2 linked regions of the Homo sapiens genome follow. The protein of the gene in region 2 purifies or fractionates together with the protein of the main gene of each other region. This does not show direct contact. Each region holds a gene or a part of one and is shown on either strand. Other genes may lie near its edges.

The links. The genes of interacting proteins can lie anywhere in the genome.
Region 1: the proteins of MYEOV (region 2) and PYGM purify together in Homo sapiens (affinity purification with mass spectrometry; one large-scale study listed by BioGRID and IntAct). This does not show direct contact.

The regions. Positions count from the first base shown.
Region 1 is NC_000011.10:64,753,351-64,757,001, reverse strand, and holds part of PYGM (glycogen phosphorylase, muscle form), read left to right. Parts: intron 1-1,443; coding exon 1,444-1,555; intron 1,556-1,646; coding exon 1,647-1,729; intron 1,730-2,165; coding exon 2,166-2,309; intron 2,310-2,656; coding exon 2,657-2,749; intron 2,750-2,976; coding exon 2,977-3,123; intron 3,124-3,319; coding exon 3,320-3,483; intron 3,484-3,651. UniProt on the Homo sapiens protein: Allosteric enzyme that catalyzes the rate-limiting step in glycogen catabolism, the phosphorolytic cleavage of glycogen to produce glucose-1-phosphate, and plays a central role in maintaining cellular and organismal glucose homeostasis.
Region 2 is NC_000011.10:69,292,504-69,296,254, forward strand, and holds the start of MYEOV (myeloma-overexpressed gene protein), read left to right. Parts: upstream 1-1,651; 5' UTR 1,652-2,073; exon of another isoform or gene 2,074-2,729; 5' UTR 2,730-2,851; coding exon 2,852-2,992; exon of another isoform or gene 2,993-3,088; coding exon 3,089-3,751.

The DNA of each region.
Region 1 (3,651 bases), 4.5 Mb from region 2:
GAGCCAGACCTCGTCTCAAAAAAAAAATTTAAAAAATTAGCCAGGGTGCTGGTGCATGCCTGTAGTCCCAGCTACTCTGAGGCTTCAGTGGGAGGATCACTTGAGTCCAGGATTTAAAGGCTGCAGTGAGCTATGATTGTACAACTGCACTCCAGCCAGCCTGTGTGACAGAGTGAGACTGTTTCAAAAAGCAAAAAGACCAAAAACTGAAAACCTTAAAACCAAACCAGGTGTACAAATCCCAGTTTAGGCCGGGCGTGGTGACTTACACCTGTAATCTCAGCACTTTGGGAGGCCAAGGCAGGTGGATCACCTGAGGTCAGGAGTTCAAGACTAGCCTGACCAATATGGTGAAACCCAGTCTCTACTAAAAACACAAAAACATTAGCCGGGCATGGTGGCACGTGCCTGTAATCCCAGCCACTCAGGAGGCTGAAGCCAGAGAATCGCTTGAATCCAGGAGGTGGAGGTTACAGTGAGCCAAGATAGTGCCACTGCACTCCAGCCTGGGTAACAGAGTGAGGTCCCATCTCAAAAACAAACAAACAAAAAACAAATCCCAGTTCAGGCAATCTTCCTGCTGAAGCTTCAGGTCATCAGCCCCCAGATGGGCTGCAGATAAACCACTAGGCTTTCAGAACTGAGCATTTGTTTGTTGTCCTCCAGGTTAAGATGCAGTGGGGGCTGCTGGCAGTCCATGCCAGGTGCACGTGGCAACTGGCACAAGTGGCTGTGGCTGGAAGGCAGGAGACCTGGCTCCCTCTGGTGCTGCCAGCCTGGCTGTGTGCTCGGGGATGGGTCCCTTCCCTCTCTCTGTGTCAACTCCCACCCTGCACCAATCAGGGTGACTGAATGTGGGGAGGGAGGGCGATGCCCCTTAAAAGGGCTCGCTTAGAGGAGTGAATGTACCCCTGGCACCGTGGTAGCAGACAATTATTGATGTTTGCTAGTTATGGAAGGCGGGGCAGAATTAGTCACCGTGAATTAGCCCTGTGGTCAACCAGAGATGAGACCTTTGGATGGACTTGACCTCTGTGACCCCTTCAGCCTGGCCCTGGGTTCCCCCAGCCCTCTCATGAGTCCACAGTGTCCTCTAGCTTTTGCTCAGGCCAGGCTGGCCAGCCCAGCCCCCATTGCTGCAGAGTGGTCGCCAACAGAGCCCCTCCTGGGTTCCGGGCTTATCACCTGCCTCCTTCCATTTTCCTCACCACCGTCTGCCCAGGCAGGGCTTATGGGTGTCGGGGAGGTGTTGAGGGTGTCTTTGCTCTAGATGCGGTCCAGAGAGACTATGGGGTTTGCTCATGGTTACCCAGCTCATCGATGCTAGACAAGGACAAGAGCCTGGGTCTGCAGAGTGCAGGGATAAAGCCTTGAGTCCCAGCCCTGAGGGGAGGGAGGCAATTGCCAGGGCTGGCCAGCTCCTGACAGGATTGCCCCCCGCAGGTGGTACTGGCCATGCCCTACGATACGCCCGTGCCTGGCTATCGCAACAATGTTGTCAACACCATGCGCCTCTGGTCTGCCAAGGCTCCCAATGACTTCAACCTCAAGGACTGTGAGTTCATCCACTGGTAGCCAGCAACCCCAGCTTGCCCGCCGGCCACGCCCAGCGCAGGCCTTACCCTGTCCCCACTTTTGTCCCTCAGTCAATGTCGGTGGCTACATCCAGGCTGTGTTGGACCGAAACCTGGCGGAGAACATCTCTCGTGTCCTGTACCCCAATGATAATGTGCGTCACCCCCTGGGCTGGGGGCTGGAAGCCTGAGTCCTTGGCAGCAGGGGTCAGGGAGAGCTGGGGAAGGACACTTGCTGGTGCCCTAGTCACACCCAGGGCATATTGCTGGCCTTGTGCATCCTGTGCCCCCACCTCAAGTCTTTTGAGTGCAAGGACACCTGAGTCCTGAGGAAACTGGGTTAGCGAAGGGCACTTTGGAGGGGCTGTTCCCTGGCGACACCCACAACACACTCGGTTCTTGTACCCCTCTTCCTGACACTGTCTCTCGCCACTAGTTCTTGGTGGAGGAAAGGCCCCTGGGTCCCAGAGAGGGGGCCGGCTCAGGGCTCAGGGGTCCCGGTATGGGTGGGAGTCCCTCCTGGCCACACCCACCGCAGCTTTAGGCCATGCCCCCACCGCCCTGACTCACGCTGCCTCATGCTGTCCCCAGTTCTTCGAAGGGAAGGAGCTGCGGCTGAAGCAGGAGTATTTCGTGGTGGCTGCCACCCTCCAGGACATCATCCGTCGCTTCAAGTCTTCCAAGTTCGGCTGCCGTGATCCCGTGCGCACGAACTTCGATGCCTTCCCAGATAAGGTACCATGCGTGTGGAGGGCGACTCTGTGACCGGACAGTGTGTGCTAGGCCTCTCCCTCCAGCCTCGGCCTGCCTGCCCCATGTAATAGATAAGGGAGTGGAGACTGGGAGTGTGGGAGGGTCAGTTGTTCAGGATTCACAATCCACAGGCTCAGAACCTGGGCTTCCCTCCTCCTCCCGCCCCACTCCCCCCATTCCTCCCACCCCCATGAGCACCGGCCTGCCTCTGCCCACAGCCCAGTCACAGAACCGTGCTGGGCTCTCTGGGGGCCTCCAAATGGCATAGGGCAGTGACCATAGCATGGAATGTGGTTTGGAGCCCAGACTGACCCCTCCCCCTACCCCAGGTGGCCATCCAGCTCAATGACACCCACCCCTCCCTGGCCATCCCCGAGCTGATGAGGATCCTGGTGGACCTGGAACGGATGGACTGGGACAAGGTGGGCTTCAGGGCCCCTCTGCCCCATCTGATGCTCTCTGCCTCGGGGTTCCCTTCCCAGTTTGGGAGCGTGGGAGGATATGAATGGAGTGAAGGGATCAGAGCCTGAGGCCAGAGGGACCGTCCTGGAACCTGGCACTGCAGTGGGGGGGCCCACTGGGATGCGTAGTGTGTGAGGAGACCCACTGGGCTGAGGTCAGCATCCTGACTGCCCACCCCGTGTGCCAGGCGTGGGATGTGACAGTGAGGACCTGTGCCTACACCAACCACACGGTGCTGCCCGAGGCCCTGGAGCGCTGGCCGGTGCACCTCTTGGAGACGCTGCTGCCGCGGCACCTCCAGATCATCTACGAGATCAACCAGCGCTTCCTCAACGTGAGTCCGGAGGCTTGGGGGATGGTGTGGGGGTGAGGGGGGACACCCAGTCTGGGCCTGGGAGTCGGGGCGTCCAGCCAGGGCCCTGAGACTCTGGGGCAGTGGGGGCACTGGGCAGAGCTCTGGGGGTGTGGGGCTGGGGACTGGGGATGGGGGTTCCTGGGTCTGGTTCTAGCTCTGGGCTCTCTGGGCACAGCGGGTGGCGGCCGCATTCCCAGGGGACGTAGACCGGCTGCGGCGCATGTCGCTGGTGGAGGAGGGCGCAGTGAAGCGCATCAACATGGCACACCTGTGCATCGCGGGGTCGCACGCCGTCAACGGCGTGGCGCGCATCCACTCCGAGATCCTCAAGAAGACCATGTGAGCCCCGCTTTCCAGATCCCGCCCCTCTCTAGGCCCCACCCACTCCACGCCTCTGTCACACAGAAGCCCCGCCCTTCACCGACCACTCTCTGGTCTCTGGGCCCTGGCGCCTTTCACAGGTGGCGTCATTCTTACAAGCACAGCAGCCCCTTCCAGTGCCGCCCT
Region 2 (3,751 bases):
GTGCCTGCCCTGAGCAGCCGGTAGGTGGCGCTGATGGGCTGGTGGTTGGGTTGGGGGAGGCTCGCATAGGGTCTCTGGAGGTCCCAGTAGGGCACTGGGGAGACCTCCCCTGATTCCCTGGAGGCAGAGCAGAGCTCTTGTCTTTGCAGGAGCTGCAGATTCTGCCTTGGGTATCTTAGAAGCTTTGTACAGGCATCTCCAGCTCAGTGGGAACCAAATGCCATCCTATCTCCCCACCTCACTGGTGTCACCATCTTCCTGGGAGCTGTCTGGATAACCCTCTCCCTGGCCCTCACCTTTAATTTGTCCCTGAGTCCCATCAGGGTCACCCTCCATCCCACTGCCATCTTCCTGGGAGCTGTCTGGATAACCCTCTCCCTGGCCCTCACCTTTAATTTGTCCCTGAGTCCTATCAATCAGGGTCACCCTCCATCCCACCACCATCTCCCACCTGAGTGAGAATGGGAACCTCCTCTCCCACTCCCTCCAATTCCCCTCCACTACAGCTGGGGGAGGCTTCTAAAATGCCAAATATAGCCCAGTTTCTGCAACTTGCAGGGTCCCCAGCCCTCGGGAGAAAGTCCAAACCCCTGACAAAGCCTGTGAAGCCCCCTGAGGCCCTGTGGGTCTGGGGCTAGCTCTGGGCTGCAGCCCTGTCTCTGGTCATAGTCCAGCATCCACCACGGTCCAGGTGCACTGAGCTGCCGGCCCTCTCTCCCCTCCGCTGGCTCCTTCCTCCTGACTGCCCGTCTTTCCCTGGCCTCTCTATGCTTCCCGCTGGCATTGACGACAGTGTCCTGGAGAGCTGGGCAGGGAGGGCTGCCTTGGGTTCCTACTGTGTGCTCCACCTAGTGCTGGTCTTGGCCCTTAGCAAGTGCTCAGTACACCCGTGTGGAATTGGGCGGTGAGGGTAAAGGGAGGAGGAGGGAAGGGCCAAGAGCTCCCTGTGCTCAATGAAGAGAGGGACTTGAGCAAGTACTCATTTTTAGTACTTCCCAAGATGTGTACAAGAGGCCTGGGGCCAGCAGAACTCCTTGCCCCTGCCCATCCCCCTCCAGTCTATGGGGTCCACCCCCAGCTGCCCAGCTGTGAGGCCTCCATGGCTCAGCTCCTCATCTATTAAGTGAGGACAGCAGTCGTCCCCCTCACAGCGAGGCCACGTGGGTTACATAACTTTTTCTTAGGGTGCCTGGCCTGCAAGAAACCCCTAAGAATGTTCTATATTCCTAGGCCCACTGTTATTCTTAATATTACCCAGGAAAGGGTGGTGAAGCGAGTAAATAAATGAATAGGTGAATGAATAAATGAATGAATGAATGGCACCCTAGCCCCACTGTCTTCTGGGTGGCTTCAGGATCCTTGAGGAGGTTGGCCGTGTAGGTTCCCCTCAGGTAGGACCTAGGTGAGCTGGGGAGTCTTAACTCACCCAGGGCAGGCCTTAAGGTTGGGCACACCCATGTGTGGGCTCTGCCCTGGCCTTAACCGAGAGAGGGAAATGTTGACGGGGAAGAAAGCCCTGCCCACCAGGCAGCCCCACCCACCTGGGCTAGCCCCACTCACAAGCAGCCCCACCCACCTGGGTTAGTCCCACCCACCAGGCAGCTCCGCCTACCTTGGCTATCCCCCTCTGAGTTCTTGCCTTGATTCTCCTGTTACTGTCCCGCGAACCCACATCCCTACAAAGCAGGAAAGTATGCTTGGGAGAGGCCAAGTGAGTGGGGAATCAGCCCAAAGCCAGGCGTCCAGGGTCTCCCTCACCTGAAGCTGACTTTTTCCCCACCTTGGACAGAGGGCGGGAGATGCCATCCCCACTGAACCCAGTGCTTTCACCAGCCATATTAGCTCCCACTCACCCCCCGTCGTGGAAGCCTCGGCCGTCACACCTGCAGGGCCGGGGCGTGCATGGCCTCAGGGATGGCCTGTTCAGCTGCTGGGTGACTCGGGTCCAGGTGCCTCACCACCTGCTGAGCTCTGTGTGATTTCTGGACACTTCTGCTCGTTGCCTTTGGGCTCAGTGAAGAGTCTGGAGTTTATCTGGAGTGAGGTGGCCGGTTCTTGGTGGGATCTGAGCAGGTAAGAAGCAGGGTCTTTCTTATGTTTTAAGGAAAGCCCTGTGGCTGCTGGGTGGGGGACCAGCTGGAGGGGCAGGAGGGCAGCAGGTGACTCATTACAAGGCTGGGGCCATCATCCTGTGAGAGCTGGGCATGACCAGTGCAGGTCAGTGGGGTTGAGGGTACAGACCAGTGGGACCCACAGACGGCTCGGGAGTGACCAAGCCTCTGCTGAGCTGCCCAGGTCCCCTCTGGTGGACACCTCCTACCCGGAGCCCCCCAAGGTGGTGCCAAAGCTAGACCACCATACAGCCAGAGGCCTCCAGGCCCTACCCACGACAGCCCAGCTGGCTTCTGCCCAGCCACCGTCACACACAGAGGGCAGCCGTCCCCATGGTCCCTAGAGGCGGTTGAGGACCACTGTGCCTGGAGTCATCTGTGGCTATAAACCAGGAGGAGAAGGCTGCCCACCCCCTGCCCCAGAGATGGGGAGGCTGGGGCCACCCGGTGGATTTGGGCAGGTCCCAGCTTCCAGGATCATGAGGTGAAAACGTGAAGGGACCCTAGAGGCCATGGGGACCCAGGCACAGAGCGGCGGCCTCTCATCCTCCCCATGGTCAAGGAGGTCAGTGCCTTCCCGGGGTGGATTACGGATGGTAGTATCTTCCTTCTCCTCAGAGTCCATTCAGGAGCAGGAAAGTTCATCTCAGACCCTAAATCCAGCCACGTCATGCCACGCTTAACACCTCTAACAACTTCCCCTGGCACTTAGGACAGCGTCTGGCTCCTTCCCTCGGCTCATGGCCCTCAGAATCTGCGTCACATACACCCCAGCTCTCCCGATAGGTCTCTGCACTCGCTGTTGCCTCTGCCTGGAACAGTCTCCCTCCTGGTGTCATTGTCTCCGTGGTGTGTCCTTCCTGACCTTCCACCTCCACCAGGTGCCGACACTTCCCTGACCCCAGTAACCTCTTCTCTTGGGTGGGTGAATGCCACCTGCTGATGTCTGATTTATTCATCGGTTTTCTTGTCTGTAGTCTGTCCCCCTTGGGGACAGGGACTCGTTGCTCATGTTCACCCGGCAGGCTGGACACTTCGTGGAGGGCTCCAAAGCCGGCAGATCCCGGGGCCGCCTCTGTCTCTCCCAGGCCCTGCGTGTTGCGGTGAGAGGAGCATTTGTGTCTCTGTGGTTTGCTGCTGGAGCTGGTGACCGGGAGAGAAACAAGGGAGACAAGGGTGCCCAGACAGGTGCGGGGCTCAGCCAGGAGGCAGAAGACGTGGACGTGTCCCGGGCCAGGAGGGTCACAGATGCACCACAAGGCACTCTGTGTGGCACTGGGAACAGGAATTCTGGGAGTCAGTCTGCAAGGGTGGTGGGCGTTGCTCACCTGGGAGAAGCCTTTAGAGTGGGCGTTGAGCAGGCCATTAGCTCGTGCCCTGAGGAGGTGCATGGGCGGCATGGGCTCTCCATGGAAATTATGTGGGCGCGAATGGATGTGGCTCTGCGCTCACCTGGGCGAGGACTTCTGGCCGGTGCCGGGGCACTCTGCATGACCCTGGCAGAATCGAGCTGCCCTGACTATGAAAGGGGAAGAAGAGCATGCCTGACCCTCCACCGGCACCCCACCCCTCACTGCTCCACCTGGGGCCTGCCTCTGCGGGTGGCTGGGTCCTGGCTGACTGTTGTGACTGTTGAGGCC